Linked DNA regions of Homo sapiens: all the other regions are linked to region 1. The links come from fine-mapping of genetic effects on gene expression. Tissue or cell type: whole blood. Region 1 holds a variant in brackets; each other region holds the start of a gene. Each region is shown on its reference strand, or each on the opposite one.

Region 1 (5,072 bases):
TTCATAATATTGTAGATTCATAAAGGACAGAACTGACATCTTCAAAGAATGTAACAATGAAGTAAAATGAGTGCTTTAGGAAGAAATATAACAAAACACAAACTCAGAAACGAGCTTGATTCCTGGAAGAGTCACCTAGGGAAACAATGCAAATCCAAAGCATTTTTTAACTCCTTTAAAAACAGCCTTTCATGAATAGTTTTGGTTGCACGTGTGAAAATTCTTTATTTTATTGATATTTCTCATTTTCCATCAAAATTAATTTATCATATTGGGGGAAAAAAAAAACCCCACAGGCTTTAGAGAGTCAAAGACCTGCATCAAATCTAACTTCCGCTAGATTGTACTTTTATGATCTTGGAAAGTGCTTAATGAGTTTTGATTTACTCATCCAAGAAATGGGAAACTTTTAACAAAAAGATTCATGTCCTGGATCTAGTGGTTCTACTTCTAGGAAATTATCTGATGGGAACGATCATAAAAATCCACAAAGTTTTATCTATGAAGAATGTTCCTTTGCAGCATTGAAATATTGGAATTGTGTGAGTAGACTATGATATATCCACAAACAGGAATACCAAATAGGGAGTAAAGATTTTTGTGGAAGAAATTTAGTGACATGAAAAATTGTTCACAATATAATAGTAAGTGAAAAATTATAAGGTTATACACATTGTTATTAATTTTTGGGGAAAATGTATTCTTATGCTTACCCATAGAAGAAACACTAGGTAGATAAGCGCAGTAATATCAGTAGTGATTCGATGTGGGTAAGTGGGACACTGAAGCAGCTTTGGTCTCTACTCTTCAAGATTTTTCAACCTTCCTTCAATAACATGTGCTAATTTTATAATTATTAAATATATATCAAATAGGGACATTAATATTCACCTTATAGATTTGTGTTAAGAATTAAATTAGGTGAGATGATTCATGAAAAACAGTTTAGTGCCTAGCATTTAATTGGTGTTTTTGATTATTTTTATCCAGTTTAATCAGTCATCATGGACTTAGCTCAAAATGATTTTTTTGACTTGAAACAAAACCAAAAATACTACCCTTTAACTGGTGAAAATTTATCACCGTTAAGGATATTCAAAAAAAAAATGCACCGTAAGCTATGAAGGCAATTTCAAAAGAGATGTTTCTGAAATGCCTTGAGCAATGAGAGAGACAATGAAATAAGCAATTAAACTTAAGGTGACTACTTTGCAGCATTTATTTGGACCTAGAAGCTTTGGTTTGTTTGTTTAAAAAACCTGTCATTACTATAGCCACATTGGGTACACGGATAGACGGAACAATATCTAACTCAAAGCGGGTAATTAGTCTGTCAAGATAAATGCCCCCTCTTCTTCAAGCTGATAAAAAGTATCTTGTCAGGGCCTCTTGTGTCATCCCCCAAACACTGTGCGTAAGCCCTGCTGTTTTCTCTTGCAACACGCTTCATCCTGCAGAAATGCAGAGGGAAGCTTTTTGTGGGTATGGTTGGTTGAAAGACAGTTCATATTACCCCTATCTCCTTTCCTGGACTGTATATCTCTGGGGTGCTATGACCTTCTCCCCCCCCCAGGGCACATGTGCACTTGCGCGCAGGCACACACACACACACACACACACACACAAATATGTATACCCAGGGCCGGGCGTGGTGGCTCACGCCTGTAATCCCAGCACTCTGGGAGGTCAAGGCGGGCAGATCACCTGAGGTCAGGAGTTCAAGACCAGCTTGGCCAACATGGTGAAACCCCGTCTCTACAAAAATTAGCCAGGTGTGGTGGTGGGCGCCTGTAATCCCAGCTACCTGGGAGGCTGTGGCAGAAGAATCGTTTGAACCCAGGAGGCAGAGGTTGCAGTGAGCCGAGATCGTGCCATTGCACTCCAGCCTGGGCGACAGAGCGAGAGTCTGTCTCAAAAACAAACAAACAAACAAACAAAAAAACAAAAAACAAACAGAAAGAAACATGTATACCCACGCACACACAGACATACACACACGGACACACATTCTCCCCCGCCCCCACACACACACCCTCAGAGAGATACCTTATCTCTCTGGCTCTCATACACACTCCTACTTTCCCCTCTCCTCGCCTATCGATCTCCTCTCCCCTGTGCTGAGTTAGAAGCTCCTCCTATTATTTTTGTAATCTCTGTTTTAGCATTTCCCATAGAATATTGCAAACATGGAGTGCTTATCTCGCTCTCACACTGGAGTTCCTTGAGCCATCTGCCACTTTTATTAGCCTCTCAGAACGCTCATTTCTTCATCTTAGTGTTCCATTGACAAATGGGAACATAATGCCTCATTTAGAAGTTAGTTGTGGGCATTCCATTGCATAACGGAGGTAGAATTCCTGGCACATGCTAGCCACCCAATAATGGAAGCTATTATTATGATTAATTATATTATTTATTCACTTTTATATCCTGAGGGCCTGGCATAGTGTCTGATGTGTGATGAGTGTAAAATAAATTTCTGGTGAATTAATGAATTAACTCACAAGCTTACAGAATGTGGCTTCAAAATAAAAGAAGAATGTTGTTTTGTAGCGTTTATAGTAGGTGTGAGCGGCAAATCCACGTGCTTCCCCTTCTTACCCCTTTCCCCAAACAACCTATCTGGTGCCAATCCTTGGGAAAAGAAACCGTTACCATCTAGATATAGAAAGCCTATTGACTATTATTTCCATGTAGATATGGCTTAGCAAGGATAAGAGGAATTTTCTCCCTTGATTATCATCTCCTTAGGCTATGTAGTTTATTTCCCAGAGACCGGTCTTCCTTAGCCTTGTTAACCTTTATATGCTTTCTAACTCCAACAAACAATTATTGGCTG[A/C]AATAACCTGATCGAGACACAATCAGCTTCACGGCTGCCTCCAGACTCTACCCGATCTGTTAGCGCTAATCTATTCACCTCTCAGTGTTCACAAAACCTGTTAGCTGATTTGCATTCCACCTCCTATCTTTTCCCTACTTCCTTTGAGGAAGATGTTTGTGAATTATTTTAAGCCAGTTGAATCACTCTGGGAGTTAAGTGCTATTTTAAGCTTTTGAGGAACAGTTGAGAAGGAATGACTTAGGGATGTGAAGCATTTCCCAATAATATCCCACAGAAACTTCAACTTACCAAGTTTGTGGTAAATTTCAGGATATTAAGACACCCTGAAATGGGTCACTGTTCTTGGATACCAGATTCTAAGCTACCCATTGCAAAATGTCTTGTTAAAGCCATGGTGTACGGTGCAAGTGAGATCCACGAGAGGCCATCTGCTGCTTGAGAGAATGTCTTCCTTTCCAGCATCTGAATGCACTGCTTTCCTTGCTGTCTGCCTAGTTGCAGAACTTTGTCTTCTTTTATCAGGACCACTGTCTCTGTGTCCTTGTCAAACTTTTTGTCCCCTAACGGCATCCTCTCCTTCAAATATTGTGCAGCAGATCTAGGGTCCCAGGTGAGTGGACCTCCGTAAGCAGATCACAAGGTGAGCACCCTCTTGAATAATTATTCCACTTGCTTTTATGAACCTTTCCTGAGCCCCCAGCCCACCAGCCAATGTATATTTCCCTACCAAAAAACGCTACCAGTTCCAGGAAGTCTTCCCAGAGTGATAAGAACACATGCTTTATCTTATCTCAACTTTTCTAGACCTCTATGTTGATTGCCGTCATCGCATGTTGACCCTGCTGGCTCCTTATTGGTCACCCTTATATAGAAATCTATGCCTTTGTGATCAACTGTGATGTTGCATTTTGCCATCTGTATGTCCTTATCATGCTGGTTCAAAACATTCTTTTTAGTTGTAGAATGTACCCAGTTAGAATGGAAGGACCGTATTTCTTTTCTTTCTTTTTCTTTTTTTTTTTTTAAGGTGACTAATGAAACACCAAGTCATATAATTATGACTTAATGGATACTTTCTGTTGTTGCTGATGATGAAATGTCCTTTCATATTCAGACTGTATCTTCCTGTAAATCAGGTACAGTGAGTCATGGGGGAACAATGGTGGGATGTTACAGTGATGAAATCTGGAGTCAAATCTTTGTCATTAACGAACTGAAAACTTGGATAGAGTTTTATACAATTTCTTTATATACATGGAGCCAGCTGTCTTTCATTGGTTAGGGGTGAAAATAGGTCCACAGTTTATGGATTATGGAGTTTGGATAAAGATAAGTGATGTTCTGAATCGCCAAGTCTACTCCAAACTTCAGGGAAATCACCACTCCATGCATGAGGAGTGATCTCTTTTGCACTCATTTTTGCACACTGATATTTTTTTTTGCAGTGAAGGTACCAAATTTATACATTCATATGTATATATATTTAAACTGTTTTTCCTTTGATGTGGAATGCTGAGAAAATCTAACACTAAATTTTGGAGATGTTGCTGTAATCTGTAGTTTTTTGGAGGAAGAAAGATGATTGCAGTAATATTTTTGTCACTTCATTACTGTCGTTCCTGTAGTAATTGTCAATGTAGGGGTTTATATTTTATTCAGATTTATCAGTAGGAATATGGGAATAGAGATTTTAAAATTAAGAGCGAGGAGAAACCCAAGAGTGCCTTCGTATTCTAAGTAAGGAAACAGACCCTTTGAAAGGTGACGTGTTTAAGATTAGATGGCTAACGTTGTGCCAACCCAGGCCACCTGCTTCCAGGCCCTGCCGCCCCCATGAGCTCTTGCCACTGAGAATAACATAAGGCAGGGAGATGTTGAGAAGCTCTTGAGTTTTGCCTATTTAGGTAGAAGTCTTCTTGGTGGCTTGCTTGATGCTTTCACATTTACAGAGTGTTCTTGTGGGCATAACCAACACGTGCTTGTATATATGGCACACATGTACTGGCATGTAAAGTAATAAGACACTGTAATGAAAGCTCTTCTTCCAAGTAGTGCCAAACCATCACTAACCTGGCCCATAGGCTTCAGTGAGTAAAGAAAATCAAATGTGGTATCAGCAAATATTTAATGTGGGAAGAAGGCCCTAAGATTGGAAAAGGTGGAGGAAGGACAGATCTTCAGCTTTCTGTGCCTTCCTTTGGCCATGGGATTCCAACAGCTGTGCTCCTGG
Region 2 (5,072 bases), not on the chromosome of region 1:
CACCAGGCCGGGCACGGCGGCTCACGCCTGCAATCCCAGCTACTTGGGAGGCTGAGGCAGGAGAACTGCTTGAACCCGGGAGGCAGAGGTTGCCGTGAGCCAAGATTGCACCATTGCACTCCAGCCTGGGCAATAAGAGTGAAACTCTGCCTCAAAAAAAAAAAAAAAAAAAAAGTCACATCAAATTACCCACCCTCCCACTACCAATCTATAAGAATGCCTGTGCCCTCAGCCTTGCCCATACAATGTATTCAACTTTTTTCTTTTTTTTGTCTTTGTCAATCATCCAATAAGTGAAACAAAGTATTTTGTTAGGGCCATGTGCCCGGGTGCAGTGGCTCTGGCCTATAGTCCCAGCACTTTGGGAGGCTGAGGCAGGAGGATCATCTGAGGCCAGGAGTTTGAGACCAGTCTGGCCAACATGGTGAAACCCCATCTCTACAAAAAATACAAAAATTAGCCAGGGGTGGTGGCACATGCCTGTAATCCCAGCTACTTGGGAGGCTGAGGCAGGGGAATTGCTTGAACCTGGGAGGTTGCAGTGAGCCAAGATAGTGCCACTGCACTGGAGCCTGGATGACAGAGCAAGACTCCATCTCAAAAAACAAAACCCCAAAGTATTTTGTTGTAGCTTTATTATTATTATTCTTTTAAAAATTATTATTATTTGAGATGGAGTTTCACTCTTGTTGCCCAGGCTGGAGTGCAATGGCACGATCTTGGCTCACTGCAACCTCCGCCTCCCGGGTTCAAGTGATTTTCCCGTCTCAGCCTGCCGAGTAGCTGGGATTACAGGCATGTGCCACCACGCCTGGCTACTTTTTGTATTTTTGGTAGAGACAGGGTTTCACCATATTGGCCAGGCTGATCTGAAACTCCTGACCTCAGGTGATCTACCCGCCTTGGCCTCCCAAAGTGCTGGGATTACAGGCATGAGCCACCATGCCTGGCCTGTCGTAGCTTTAGTTTACAGTTTTTTTGTGAATGAGATTGAGCATCTTTTCATTTGTTTAAAAGCCAGTATTTCCTCTTCTGTGAGCTGCCTGTCCCTTTGTCCATTTAAAAATGTCATTGTCTTTCATTAGTTGGCATTTCTTTGTGGACAAAGGAAATTAAACCTTTGTCTGCTAGATGTGCTCCATATAATTTCCCTCAGTTGTCATTTGTCTATGTCCTATCCCCTTGAGCACAGAGATTGGAATTTAAACTTTTTTATATTCTTTTTCTTAATATAACAAGACATACACGGTAGGTGCTAGACAAATGTCTGTTGGCACAGCAGAGTAAGAAGAAAAAGGCAGAGATCTGGAAAATTTGGAGTGACTTAACCCAACCACTCCTTCCTCTTATACCAAGTCTAACCCTTAGTCTTTGTGTCAGTCAGGACTCTTATAAACAGCAGAAGCTAACTGGCAAATTGTTTCAAGTCCCCTGCCCCCAACAATTATAGAGATATCGGATAGCACACAGAATCAATGCAAGGGCCAGCAAACAAGGGTCAGCAATCAGACAGGCACCTAGGGAAGCTGGGCAGCCAGTACCACAGTCAAGGTTGGGCACAGGACAGCCTGTGTAGGAGACTCCTGTCCCCTCCACCCTCCGCAGTGATCCTCCTACTCTCGTCCCTCACCTGCGGCAGTAGCGCTGACACTTCCTCCTCCAGACACTAGAGGCCGCTGTTGGCCCCATCGCCTCCACCGCCGCCGCAGAAATGAATTCCTAAACCAGCCTTGCTATTCCGTGACTTGCTCCAGATTCAAAGTCCCAGTTGGAGCATCCGATTGGCGGAGCTCATGTCTTCTGCCTGCAACCCCAGAGCCGAGTCAGGGAGAGCAAGCATTGGGGCTTTGTGGCAAATGGTGGCCTGCTTTCCATTAGGGCCCTTGCGATGGGAATTCCCCAAATGTAGGCAGGAGGTTCTGATGGTGGGCAGCCAGGAAACCAGGACACTCACACCACCTTCTTCTCTCACGTCCGCCTCAAACCCTTCTCGTTGGCGAAGTATTCCTGGGTCCCCCAGCCTAAAGCACTTTTCTGGACTCACATAACCATTATTGCTTGAGCCAATCACGATGCCAGCAGGACCGCAGTAACACCTAATTCGTACCATGTCTCATTTGACTTTCAAACAACCCTAGGCACTACCTATATTTAGTGAGAAAAAAAGAGTGCTCAGAGATTTTCCCAAGTCTCACAGTAATGCCAGGTTGTACTCTGTTTCCAAAGCCTCGGGTTTCCCAGCGGGCTACACTGATGGGCTGGTATCTTATCAAGTTCAAGCTCTGCAAAGGCAGGGCTTGGGCCACATTCTTCTTTATACGGCCTGGCAGCATCTTGAATGCAGAAAAATGCTCAGCTAACGCCTTTGGATTGGCCTGGATGGGATCAAGCAGGAGCCAGTTCTGGAAGGTTTCCTAACTCTCCAATGAGGCCTGAACCCAGGGAGCATTTTGAAGTGGAATAGGCCTACTCAGGATCAGTTTGGGAAGACTTGAACCTGGGGAATTCCGTTGTACGGCCCCCTTTACCTCACCTCCCCCAAATGTGTCAAAACTGTCAACAAGAGGTTTGCAGGTGTTCATTATTTATTCATCCCACGGGTAGTTTTGAACCCCTACGACTGCTCTAATAGACCAGTGAGAAAAAACACACAATTCCTGTCCTGTGAAATCGACATTCTAGTGGGGGAGGTGAATGGTAATAAAAAATAATCAAACCAATAAATGCTAATTTGTGGCTCTAACAAGCCTGATGAAGGAAATGCCACGAGATGCTGTAAAAGGCAGTTCTGACCTACTCAGGAAAGCCAGGGCAGCCTGCTGGGGGACCTGGGGCTGGAGCTGGGAGCTGAAGAAGGGGGAGGAGTTAGAACCGTGGTGGGGGGAGGGAGGGAAGAGTCTGAGTCCTCGAGGTGGGTGAGTAAGCATGGATCATCGCTCATGTTTATAAGAAAGTGACAGAGGAACCTGGGGGCCGAGCGGCTTGTTTGTGGGCTGCCCCAGCCTCCGTGCGAGCGCTTCTCGCTTGGATGGAGGCGGGGCCGCAGTCTCCCAGGTCCCAGCTGGGGCTGACGTCGTCCTGGTGTGTGCCCAAAATAGCCGGCTCCGCCCTCTTCTCCCGGCAGCCCCTGCAGGCCCCCACCCCCCCAGGGGACAGGCGGAGCCGGCCTTCTCCCCGTCTCTAGTAGTTTCCGCACCGCTGACGCATGCCTGCGCGCACAGCTGGGCCGGGCGCGTCCTACGCAGCAGCCGCGAGCCGGGCTGCGGGTGCCAGACGGTTCCCGGCGGGGGGCAGGGGCGGGGCGCCGCAGGAGGCCGGGACTCCTGGCGGAGGAGGTGCGGCCGGGGGCCCGGGTCAGGCTGGGGGCCCTGGATCGGACTGCTGGAGTTGGGGGGCCCCGATAGGGCTCCTGGGCCTGGGCGTCGAGATAGCTCTTGGCCCCGGCCTGCGGGGGCAGATAAGGCTGCCGGAGGGAGCCTAGTCACCGGCCGCAAGCAGAGCCCGGTGTGCTCCGCTTCCAACTGGGAGCGCCTTCCGCCACCCGGGGAGGGGGACTGCTGCAGCCACAGGGTGGGGCTCTTGGTTCTTTCCGCCTGACTCCTTCTCTTCTGCAGCCCCAAGGAGGCCCGCCTGACGACTGACCAGTTGCCATGGCATCCTACTACGAGATCCTAGACGTGCCGCGAAGTGCGTCCGCTGATGACATCAAGAAGGCGTAAGTGCCTCCGTATGCAACAGAAGACCTCTCACCCTCCACCCGCCACCACCATGGGGCACTTCAGAGTGACACCTGTAGGTGTCTGAGGGAACCAGGTCGTTAGAAAGCACTGGGGTGCTTCTTCCGAGTGACACCTGCAGGGAGGAAAGAGACCCCTGGTAGAGTACAAGGAGAACGTCCAGAGAGTGAAGTAGTTAGTTCCTCTGGGAGCTGCACTGTGTTATGGGTTGTTCTCCAGTTGATCTTCCCCTCCTCCTCCTCCTCCTCCTCCTTTCCCCTCCCCTCCCCCTTCCCCCTAGATTTGGGCATTCTCAGGCTGCAGTGCAAAGATGCAGTGCAAAGAGGCTCTATGAGGAGGAGGGGCCGGTGTCCCTGTACTCTTCGAGGCCACATGTGCCCCAACCTTTGCAGCCCCAGTCCAGTGAGCCCTAGGGAGGGGCTAGGGACCCTGGCATTGTATCCGCTTGTACATGTGGTCCCAGCACTGGTGGCGGAGGAGAGAGGGTGGAACTTGATGAAAATATCACAGCAGCGGCAGCCCTAGCAGCTGGGGTGGACTGGGACCCGGGGGTGAAAGGACAGTGATAGGCTAATGGGAAAACAGGTCGTTCGGTTCCTGGGTGGGAAGTGCCTGCATTTGTCCCCCGACTCTCTCCTCTGCACCCACTTTCTGCAGGTATCGGCGCAAGGCTCTCCAGTGGCACCCAGACAAAAACCCAGATAATAAAGAGTTTGCTGAGAAGAAATTTAAGGAGGTGGCCGAGGCATATGAAGTGCTGTCTGACAGTAAGGGCCGGGGTCAGGCAGGACCCAGCACATCACCCCCTACTTCATGCCCCAGCTCACATTTTCTTAAAGCAATGTCTCTGCCACCTAGTTTCCTCTGTGCCTTTTTCCAGCCTGACATTTAAGCTCCCCCCTCCCACAGGGACAGCTCAGTGTCTGCTCCCCAGAGTCTGGTAGGAGTGGCTGGCATGAGACCTGAAAGGGGAAGGAAGCAGGGCAGGTAACTCATGTGAGCTGAGCCTCCTGCGTGCCAGGCATTGGTGGGTGTCATCTCCATGAGTTCTCACAGCCGTCCTATGAGGCAGGTTCTATCACCCCTATTTTACAGGCAAGGAAACTGAGGCTGAGAGAGGTGAAGTAACTTGCTCAAGGCCACGCAGAGCTGGAATATGAATCCAGGTCTGCCTTTTTATTGATTCATTCGAAAAGTAATTCAGTGAATGGTGACAGTGTCCGGCACTCGCTGGGTGCTGGGGAAACTGGAGGACAAGCAGGCACTGTCTTTGCCCAGAGGGGCAGGGAAGACCAACACCTACCAGGCACACACACAGACACAGTTACAGCTTGT
Region 3 (5,072 bases), not on the chromosome of region 1:
AGGACACCAGTGTAGTTGGCTCTACTCGGCAGAGCTCTGTATCTCAGGGGGGCCAAGTCTGGACTGGGAGGGGTGACTGGCTAGCGTTCCACATGTGGGCTGTTTCCACCTTGAAAACACATCTCACTAATTACAACAGCCTGCTCTAAGTGGTTCTGTGTCACCTTGTGCCTCTGCCAAGATTGTGCTTGAGTTAGGCAGCATTCATTTCATTGTTATCTGCAAGCTCCCTGGTACAGGTTCTTCTTGCCCTTCTGTGCCTGTTTCAAACTCTCAAAACAAACAAATAAATAAACCTGTTTCTGAAGCTAATCAAAGACGAAGCAAAAATGGTTTAGTGGTCTGATCAAACTTAGGGATTGTATACTAGCACAATTATCAGAAGACCTGCTAAAAGCTCTTCTAAGAGTTTGATTTCTTGGGAGAAGTAAAAAAAAAAAAAAAAGAACAATTATATTGCCCTTCTCTCATTTATAAATGTGTTAATTATGTCTTTAAAATTTAGGTGAAATGAGATTTTCACTAATGTGAAATTTAATGTTCATAGAAAACTATGTGACTTAATAGAAGCGTTATTTATCAAATTAGAAAAATCACAAAGCTGGAATTTTGAAGAACATAAACTTTTATTTTGAAGGAGAAAAGTGGCTTTTTGGAGAAATGTAAGATGCGTAATGTTGCTGCTGATAGTGGGAAGAAATAAAAGCAACATACATAAAACTGCCCTTAAGTCCCCTCACCCAAACAAAATCAAACATTTCCAATTAGGAGCTCTCAGGATGTATATAAAATATTACTAACCTGTATTGGTTGGTCTATGGTACATGTTGGACAAATGTTTGAAAAATGCCAAACATTTGCAATAAATTAGAAATCTAACCAATAAGATGATTGCAAACTCATGGTCCCTGCCAGGAAAGATTGCTAAAGAACTTTGCATTTGCTTTAACTAATGATGTCTGTAGGAAAACTACTAGAGATTGAAAGGGAGAGGCTGCTGAAGCCCTGAAAGGGATTAGGAAGCTCCCTTTTCCAACCCAGGGGACCCAAATCAGCTCAGAGGCATTGTATATGTTTTCCTTTCAGAAAAAATATTGAGAGCCCATGAGGTTTTCATTGCTTTGATGGTTTTTGCACAGGAACTCTCCCTCCGTTTTCTAAAAACTTGGGAATCTCTTTTGCATGATTTTCTCCAGCTAATCAAAACCACTCCTAAGTTAAAAACTGATAGCAATAGAAAAGTGATTTCCAGAGATTCCCTTTATGCCCTCTTCCTCAAGTATCTGAGCAGTTACAACCAATGTTCAATTTTCCACACACTCCGTGCCAGTCCCGGTTTTATTTCCAAAATCTAAATTGACAAAGGACAAAAAGACCCTTAAAAGGTTATCTACTTGTGCATCCTGGTTTTCCTTTCTGTACAGGAAATGTTCCTGTGACTAGAATCCTGCCCAGTGGTAGGAAGGTGCAGAATGAGGCTGAGCGAGGGGCCTCTGGCCAGAATGCTCACCACAAACTCCTCCACCAAACACCACTTCCAACGCTCTGCGCAGCTCCAGTGCTAGCATCTTTAACAATAATCGTGTATCTATTTTTTTTTAAACCGCCGTTCAGTTCTTCGTTTTTTTAGTTTTGTTGTTTTTGTTTGTTTGTTTTATTTTTAAACTGCCCTTAAGTATAGCTGGTACAACTCGGGAGGAGAATGCGCGAGACTTGGGCGGCGTGGGAGGGGTGCCTCAAATTTGATACAGGCTTGTTGTGATGACAGACCAGGTCAGGCAGAACTTCTGCCCTTCCCGCTACTGGCACCCCAAGCAGGGATGCACTGGGATGCGTGGCAGGGGCGGGATCTCCTGGGAGCGTCTCAGCCCAGCAGGGAGTGGGGAAGCAAGAGGGAAGGCTTACCTTCCTCGGTGGCTGGCAGGAGGTGGTCGCTGCTAGCGAGGGGGATGCAAAGGTCGTTGTCCTGGGGGAAACGGTCGCACTCAAGCATGTCGGGCCAGGGGAAGCCGAAGGCGGACATGACCGGGGCGCAGCGGTCCTTCACCTGCACGCAGAGCGAGTGGCATGGCTGGATGGTCTCGTCTAGGTCATCGAGGCAGACGGGGGCGAAGAGCGAGCACAGGAACTTCTTGGTGTCCGGGTGGCACTGCTTCATGACCAGCGGGATCCAAGCGCCGGCCTGCTCCAGCACCTCCTTCATGGTCTCGTGGCCCAGCAGGTTGGGCAGCCGCATGTTCTGGTATTCGATGCCGTGGCACAGCTGCAGGTTGGCAGGGATGGGCTTGCAATTGCTGCGCTTGTAGGAGAAGTCGGGCTGGCCAAAGAGGAAGAGCCCGCGCGCCGAGCCCAGGCAGCAGTGCGAGGCGAGGAAGAGCAGCAGCAGCGAGCCAGGGCCCTGCAGCATCGTGGGCGCGCGACCCCGAGGGGGCAGAGGGAGCGGAGCCGGGGAAGGGCGAGGCGGCCGGAGTTCGAGCTTGTCCCGGGCCCGCTCTCTTCGCTGGGTGCGACTCGGGGCCCCGAAAAGCTGGCAGCCGGCGGCTGGGGCGCGGAGAAGCGGGACACCGGGAGGACAGCGCGGGCGAGGCGCTGCAAGCCCGCGCGCAGCTCCGGGGGGCTCCGACCCGGGGGAGCAGAATGAGCCGTTGCTGGGGCACAGCCAGAGTTTTCTTGGCCTTTTTTATGCAAATCTGGAGGGTGGGGGGAGCAAGGGAGGAGCCAATGAAGGGTAATCCGAGGAGGGCTGGTCACTACTTTCTGGGTCTGGTTTTGCGTTGAGAATGCCCCTCACGCGCTTGCTGGAAGGGAATTCTGGCTGCGCCCCCTCCCCTAGATGCCGCCGCTCGCCCGCCCTAGGATTTCTTTAAACAACAAACAGAGAAGCCTGGCCGCTGCGCCCCCACAGTGAGCGAGCAGGGCGCGGGCTGCGGGAGTGGGGGGCACGCAGGGCACCCCGCGAGCGGCCTCGCGACCAGGTACTGGCGGGAACGCGCCTAGCCCCGCGTGCCGCCGGGGCCCGGGCTTGTTTTGCCCCAGTCCGAAGTTTCTGCTGGGTTGCCAGGCATGAGTGGGAGAGGGTGTGTGTGTGTGTGTGTGTGTGTGTGTGTGTGTGTGTGTGTGTGTTGGGGGGCTGCGTCCCTGGTAGCCGCGTGTGCCCTGTGATGGAGCCCGGGACCTGCCCGCCCGAGGCCGCCTCGGCGAACTTCGTTTTCCCTCGAATCTCCAGCCACCGTTCAGCAGCCTGTCGGTGTGCTCCCCAATGCCGTAAAAAAATCAGAATTATAAATATATTCGTATGAGCAGAACTTTACATGGAAAACGAAATACTAATAAAATGGGCTTGTTATTCTGTTGGAGTGAGTGCCTAGGAAGGGTTTCGTCGTTGTAGAAACGCCCCTACAAGAGTCTCACCAGTCACACAGGACTGCCCACCATTTCCCCGTTTTGGAGAGATTTTTCCTTCTTAAATGAATGGCATGACTCAATACTCGAAGGCATCACGGGCTCTAACACACAGCCGCCCTTGCAGCTGTGCGCTCTGGAAAGCTGGAGTATGGGCCCCCAGGGCACTGTTTGTAAAGACTGGTGGCCGGCACAAAAGACGGGCACAAAAGATGGGCAGGCTGGGAGGGAGCGAGGTAGAGGAAGGAGTCCTGCCTAGAGATCCACGAGGGCTAGAATTAGCTCATTCATCCCCTACGTACCAGGGGGCACCATGCTGGGCGCTGGATGTGCAGAAATGAACAAACAGGCCGGCCTCTGCTCTCGTGGAGCCTGGGATCTAGTGTCTCTGACTGCAAACAGTAAGTTCTGGGTTGGGGGGTGGGCTCCTTTTGCCTAATTGTCCCTAGTCTCCCTATGGGGACAGGAGGCCTTCGCTCTCCTCAGCCGCTGTCTCCGGGTGGCTGTGAAGATCCAAAGAGATAATCCCCGGAGGGCGAAGTTCTTTCATATGTAAGGTGGGCGCATTGTTATTACTTCCCGACCACTTAAGAGTCATTCACAGGCTCAGACCCCGGCTTCCTAATTTCCCTCCTTCCGGAAGATGCGTTGGCCTTGGCGGCTCCCAGGCCCAAGTTATCAGGCACACTTTGCGGTCCAGCTGCTTAGAGGAGCCGGGTAATGAATGAATGGGTGGCAAAAGCCCACTCAGTGTTATCTGCTGACCGTAAACACGCCAGGAAAATCGTCATCTGGAGAGAATGCACATTCTGAACTCCAAGAATCTGCGTCCCTAAGAGCCCAGCTTCCGGGTGCTCTGCTGGGGAAGGGCCCGGGGTAGCTGCAAAAGGCCTCTCTTTCCCCAAATTGGTTCAGGGCCTTTTCGTCTCTAACGAAAGCACCAAGAGGCCTAAAAGCCCCCTTCCCAACATAAACTACTTTGCAATGAAACCACAAAGGAAACAGAAGCACACCAAAAGAAAGAGCTAATAAAGAGCGTGAGCTCTGAGAGATGCTACGACTTGGGCCTGGGAGTGGGATAAGGGCCCTCTCGCTTTCACGCCCCCCCAACCCCCCGCCGGCCCCGGCCAACCCCTAAATCCCCAACGCCCTCCGCTGGGGTCGCCTCCTCCCCGCAGAGCCCCTTGTTGGGAGTTCAAGGAGCCCGAAGCTGGTCTGGCTGGTTTGAGCCCCGCGCTGCCGCACGCCCGGAAGTGGCTGGCGGCCCCCGCGCTCCGCGCGCCGGCTGCATTGTTTTGGGAGCCCTCGCTGCCCGGCTTGCCGCCAGGAGGTGCTGGGAGTCGCGCCTGAGTCTCCATCCCTGCCGTGCGCAGTGTCCACCTCTGGCCAGCTTGTTTGCCCGGCCCGCGGCGTCCCCTGCGGCCCATCGCTGCTCCTCCCGGAACCCACGCCACTTAGTCTGGTCCCGACCCTGCACTCGCTGCTGCTGCCTTTCCCACCTCAAGTCGCTCTCCCCACTCCCTTCTGCTTTTGGGCTAAGACCGGTCCAATTGATCACTGGGGAACAGGGCAATAACCTCCCGCGGAGGCTGGGACGCGGGCACGGAGCTCTGCCCATATGAGCAGCGCAGGGATGGGACACTGGGTGCCCATCCCAGCGCGCCTCCCCA
Region 4 (5,072 bases), not on the chromosome of region 1:
GCTCCCAGAAGGCTGAGGAGGACCCACAGCTGACAAGACTGGTCTGGGATCTAGAAGATCCTGTTCTGTAGCAAGACGTTTCTCTGATGGTAGGAAGGGTATGAGAGTGGGAGACTCTCAGGGCTGCTCAGCTGGGGAGATCTGGGGTGCCTGGGGTACCCAGAGAGAGGAGTGGACCAGGACATCTTTAGAAGGGCAGAATGGAGGGGTGAACTCTACTCTGGGTCTTGGGGACCAGGAAAGAAGCCTCAAAACCTGAGCTCCTTTTGATTCCCCCAGCTGGGTGCCCAGGGACTAGGGCCAGAGATTAGGTTGAGGCCCCAACCTGCACCCTTCTCTACTTTTTTTATTTTTTAATAGAGACAGGGTCTTACTACGTTGCCCAGGCTGGTCTCAAACTCCTGGGCTCAGGCGAGCCTCTGGCCTTGGCCTCCCAAAGTGCTGGGATTACAGGCATGAGCTACTGCACCAGGTCCCTTCTCTGCTTTTTGACCCTTGACACCAACACAGTCCCTCAAGATTTTCCTGAAGTCCCTGCCTTCAGGCCTCTGCTTCCCCAAAGGACTTTCCTCTTCCCCAGCATCACTGCACTCCATGAGCCTGCAGGAGCTCAGCCTTGTAGAGAAAAGACCCTCAGCGGGGAGAAGTCCCAGGACAAAACACAGGTCAGCAGGGGGCTTCAGAGGGGTCCTGCCTCCAGGCCAGAATATACCTGCATCCCTATATTTTGAGGGACCCAAGCTGGACATGAGAAAACCTTCCTCTGGCTCACTCCTGCTCAAATGTCCTCCTTTGAGTCTACCAAAAGCTCTCCTGCTGCAGTGGAGGCCTGACCTCTTCTCCGAGCCTGGCAAATATTGGGAAGGAGGAAGGAGGCTAGGAACTCTCTGGCCTGTAGTGAGGTCAGACCTCACTTATCTCCAGGGGAAGCAGAAGACACACAGTGTGATTACCCTCAGTTCCACACCTGCCAAAAAGCAGTATTTGGGAGTCATTGTTTCCCTAGGGGTTCAGACTGCTCCCTCAGGTCAGTGGTTGCTCAAGCATGGGGAGTTAGGGCTCAACCCTTGGAGGCCCCTCCCTGTTTCCTCCTAGACCCTGCAGCCAATTCTCTCCAGTCACCCCAGGGACCACAGTCCCTGCTCCTCCTCCCATGCACATACAGCAAGGGGCAGTGTCTGGGGCAGGAGAAAGGTGGTCTGAACCCTGTCCTTTCTTGCCGTGCTCTGTGACTCAACCTCTCTGGTCTGCAGTTCCCCAGAGGGCTTCCAAGACCTGGGAGACAGAGTTGAAGCAGACACACATAAGAGCTCGGGGTGGGGGTGGGAGGGGAGCTCTGAAAGCATCTTTGCCAGTCCCCTCTGGACCAAGTCCCACCTGCAGAGTCCCCAGACTTTGGCTGCAGATGCAGCCTGACAGTGTAGAATGAAAGCCAGACCTTGGGTTAGTTACTTCACCAGGTGCAAAGCCCTTCTTCACCTCTGACCTGGCAGCAGCCCTGGGAGGTGGGCAGGGTGGGGTTTATTGTTCTCATTTTATAGGTGAGAAAACTGAGTCTCAGGAAGGGGCAGTGATTTGCTCAAGGTCACACATCCATTCAGGCAGAGCAGGACGAAGAGGTCAGATATTTGGGGGAGTCACACTGGGCACTGTTCTCTATCCAAGCCCAAGAGGCCGAGACAAAGCCCAAGTCTTTGAGGGGTGGCTTGGGCCCCACTCTCACCCTACTTGTACCCCCGGGTCCCCTGTACTCAGGACCCAGCCATCCCTTGGGCAATGCCTGCTCTTGGGGCTTGGGCCTCAAATCCTGTTCCTCCCTGAGATCCTAGAACCAACTGCTGCCAGTTTTCACTCGTTGAAAACAAGTGACAGGCAGAGACTTGGTTCAGAGGTCTCTGCCTTGGGACATTCTTTCAGCTAGCGCAGTCCCTGCTCCCCCTCCAAACTGTAAGTATCAAGGCCCTGGGGAGGGGAGCCAGAACACCACCTGTCCACCCCTGGGTCTCCCGTGCCCAGCCCTCTCCTCCTGAGCTACCTTGCTGACAGCTGGCAGGTGGCACTGCCGTGAGCAGGCCCAGAATGAGGAGGCTGAGGGCCGACATGGCTGCAGCAGCTCCTAGCCTTGCTTCTGGCCGCCGGTGTCTGGGCTCCTGGAGCTGCTGTGGAGTCTATTGGTGTCCGCCTGAAATCAACCTGGGCTCAGTCTGGCCCTGGAGGAGAGGAGCTAGGAAGGAGGAAGGCGAGGGAGGGAGGAGACACGAAGACGGGCGTCGGAGAGAACGTGCCCTCCCTCCCATGGTAATGAGCTGCCAGACCTGGCCTCCCCTGGCTGGTGCCCAGCTCACTTGGGCTGGCATTCGAGGTCATCTTCCAGGGGCCAGCTAAGGAGGTGGGTATGAGGAACAAGCAGATGTGGGAGAGTCCCAGCCTCACCTCCATGCCCTGAGCTCCCTTTTCCTGGCAGTGGGGCTGGATTCTAGGGAAAGGGGTGACACACAGTCGCTCCTGCCTTGACTGAGCCCAGTGGGCGGGGCTTCTTGGAAGGCTGACAGTGGGATTAAGAAATGTCCTGGCTGGCTCAGGAGCCTGGGGAAAACCCCAGAAGCCCAGAGAAGGCTCAAAGCTGCCAGACTCCGCCGAGAGCCTGGCCTATTTCCTGTTCTCCCCACCACCTGCCCCTGCCCCGCCAAGCTAAACTCTGGGACTCTAATGCTGGGACACACTACGGCTTCAGTGCCTTCCACGCCCTGGCCCAGCCCAGTAGCTTCCTAAATCCACCCCCTTCTGCAAAGATCTCAATAGAGGGCCTGAAGGTCCCAGTCCCCAGCTTTCACAGCCCATGCCCAGGCCCTGACCCAGCACAGCTAACCTAGTCCCAGTTCGGTTCTTCCTCTTGGCCCCAGATGTGGTCCCTGGAAACCGGGCAGGGCCTCAAAACAAGATACAGCCTTGGTCAGAGGCTTCAACACCCAACTTCAGATCCATCTCCACCCATGGCAGAGGAGAAAATGGGCAAACACAGCCTGCTGTGGGGGACAAAGGACGGACACCCCAGATGGCAAGGTGCGATCTGGGGCCCTGAAGCCCTGGGCCCGTCACCCTCATAGCCAAAAGCAGCATTGAGGAAGGCACACCTAGCCCCTGGAACAGGGAGGCCCTGGAGCCAGAGCCCTCGGAAGAGGCAAAAGCCTCCCCAGGATCACGTGGTGTCCACCTGGCCCTCCAGCTCAGGGAATGAGAATGGCCAGAGTTCCTGTGCAAGCCCCTGACCAAGGGTCATGCTGGTCTCCTTGCCCCACCCCCCACCCCAGAAGTATGGGAAGCTGAGATGCTGACTCCCTAGAAAGGAGCGGGCCAACTGGAACAAAGTCTCATCAGAGATGGAAGGTCCCCAGGAGCCAGCACCTGAGCTGAAGGCACCTCCACAGCCTCTCTTCCCTGAAGCCACCAAACTCCTATTCATCAGGCCTCCTGGGCAACCCTTCCTATGGCAGGTTGATTCTGCCTTCCTGCTCCAGCGGGAGCACTCAGACATCATGCCTCAGGCCTGCTTCCTGTGTGTGTGTGTGTGTGTGTGTGTGTGTGTGTGTGTGTGTGTGTGTGTGGTGTGTGTGGGTGTGTGTGTGTGTGTTCACATGCGTGTGCAGTCGGGCCCATTGCCATCCAAAGATGGAGTGTCTCAAGGTGATCTGGGAGAACTTTGCTTGGAGTTGAGTGATGCCTCCCAAACATGTATATCCTGGCCTCCCTCCCACACCCAACTTGGTGTCCTCAGAATCTTCTAACACAGACTGGAGTAAGCACTGTGCATGTTAATGAACAGCCAGAGAATCACTGATTGGAATGTAAGGAATGGGGCTGAATTTAACAAACATCTACTGGTGCCTTCTCCAAGAATTTTAGGGAGGAGAGTCACATGGTTAGTTTTGCGTTTGGGAAAACACCTCTCCATGCAGTGTGGAGAGTGAAAGGGGCATGCAAAGGCTGGAGAAGAGAAATCCAGGGATCTGCTACAGTGGCCACAACACCAGTGCCTGGACCTGGGCAGGAAGTGCCCATGGGAACAGATCTGAGCCCTGTTGAGGAGGTAGAGAAGCCGGGGTGTGGCTGCTGGAACACAGTGCCAAGCTGGGAGAATGGGTACAGGCAGGAGGCAGGGCTTCAGGTGACTCCCAGGTTTCTGGCGTAGGCAGCTGGGTAGATGCTAGTGCCTCAGTAGGGGCCAGAGCAAGTTTGGGGGGTTGGAGGATTAATGAGCTATAGATTTTGAGGTATTATGCTTGCAGTGCCTGTGGACTTTCCAGAGGGAGACATCTGGAAGGCTGCAAAATCCCTGCATCTGGAGTGGAACATCTGGGAGCCGTCTGCAGCACAGGGATGGTAACTGAGGCCTGGGAGCTCATGGTCTCCCCAGTGTGTGTAGCGGGGGTAGGGGTGTTGAGGGGAGAGCACAGAAAGAAGGAGACACGCCCCCAACACACAAAGGTCTTTCAAAGGAAGAAGGGGCAGGAGGAAACAGGAGGAAGCAACCCCAGGAAAGTGGGGTATCCCAGGAGCCAAGCAAGGACAGACTTAAGGAGGGTGGGGGGGTCACAGCTGTGCCACCCCCTCCAACCAGTGCCCTCAGCACTCAAGTCCCAGGTTCTGCCTTCCCCACCCCAGTATCCTCCACTTCCCTGAAAAACCCAGGGAAAGGAAAGGATCCCCTGGGCTATGCTTTGGGAGTGGTGGGGGAAGGGGATGAACAGGAAGGACACCAGGTGATCAACAGGAGGAAAACATACCTCCTGGGTCAAAGTCCCAAGCTTTAGAGCAAAACAAGTTGTTCCAGAAAAGAGGGAGCATGGGTGGACACTTGGCTTTGAGGCTGGTCCCTCCTCCCTGGAGGTCTTCACACGGGTGGAGGGTCATCTCCCCAGCTGTATGGACACAGCCCTGATCCCCATGGTAACAAGGTGGGCCCCCCTACTGGTCTGGCTGGGGCCCAGGGTCTGGACTAAGGTCTCAGCAGCCCCACAGGGCTGCACCGTGTGTCCTGAGCAGCTGTTCCATCGACGTTCAGTTCCTCCTTC

Evidence for each region. PIP is the estimated chance that this variant, and not a neighbour inherited with it, causes the effect. A credible set is the group of variants that fine-mapping cannot tell apart.
Region 2: it holds the start of DNAJB2, and the variant in region 1 is the best candidate, but not a certain one, in a credible set for the expression of DNAJB2 in whole blood (TOPMed, PIP 0.60).
Region 3: SFRP2 starts here. The variant in region 1 is fine-mapped to the expression of SFRP2 in whole blood (TOPMed, PIP above 0.99).
Region 4: PDZK1IP1 starts here. The variant in region 1 is fine-mapped to the expression of PDZK1IP1 in whole blood (TOPMed, PIP 0.95).

The regions. Positions count from the first base shown.
Region 1 is chr6:139,516,717-139,521,788 of GRCh38, forward strand. No RefSeq gene overlaps it. Among named protein-coding and RNA genes, the nearest start is that of LINC01625, 45 kb to the left of the region's middle. RefSeq lists a cis regulatory region at 1,902-2,378. The variant A/C (reference allele first, on the strand shown) is at 2,840.
Region 2 is chr2:219,276,184-219,281,255 of GRCh38, forward strand. DNAJB2 (DnaJ heat shock protein family (Hsp40) member B2) reads left to right here and starts at 3,183. Exons shown (of 9, transcript NM_006736.6): 1 at 3,183-3,335; 2 at 3,615-3,715; 3 at 4,395-4,504. The coding sequence starts at 3,651. RefSeq lists an enhancer at 1,303-2,007 and silencers at 1,584-1,786, 3,028-3,507.
Region 3 is chr4:153,786,429-153,791,500 of GRCh38, forward strand. SFRP2 (secreted frizzled related protein 2) reads right to left here and starts at 2,655. Exons shown (of 3, transcript NM_003013.3): 1 at 1,906-2,655. The coding sequence starts at 2,407. RefSeq lists enhancers at 2,799-2,968, 2,883-3,584, 3,585-4,286, 4,548-4,717.
Region 4 is chr1:47,187,831-47,192,902 of GRCh38, forward strand. It overlaps PDZK1IP1 (PDZK1 interacting protein 1), which reads right to left and starts at 2,206. Exons shown (of 4, transcript NM_005764.4): 1 at 2,036-2,206. The coding sequence starts at 2,102. RefSeq lists a silencer at 2,487-2,781 and an enhancer at 3,611-4,560.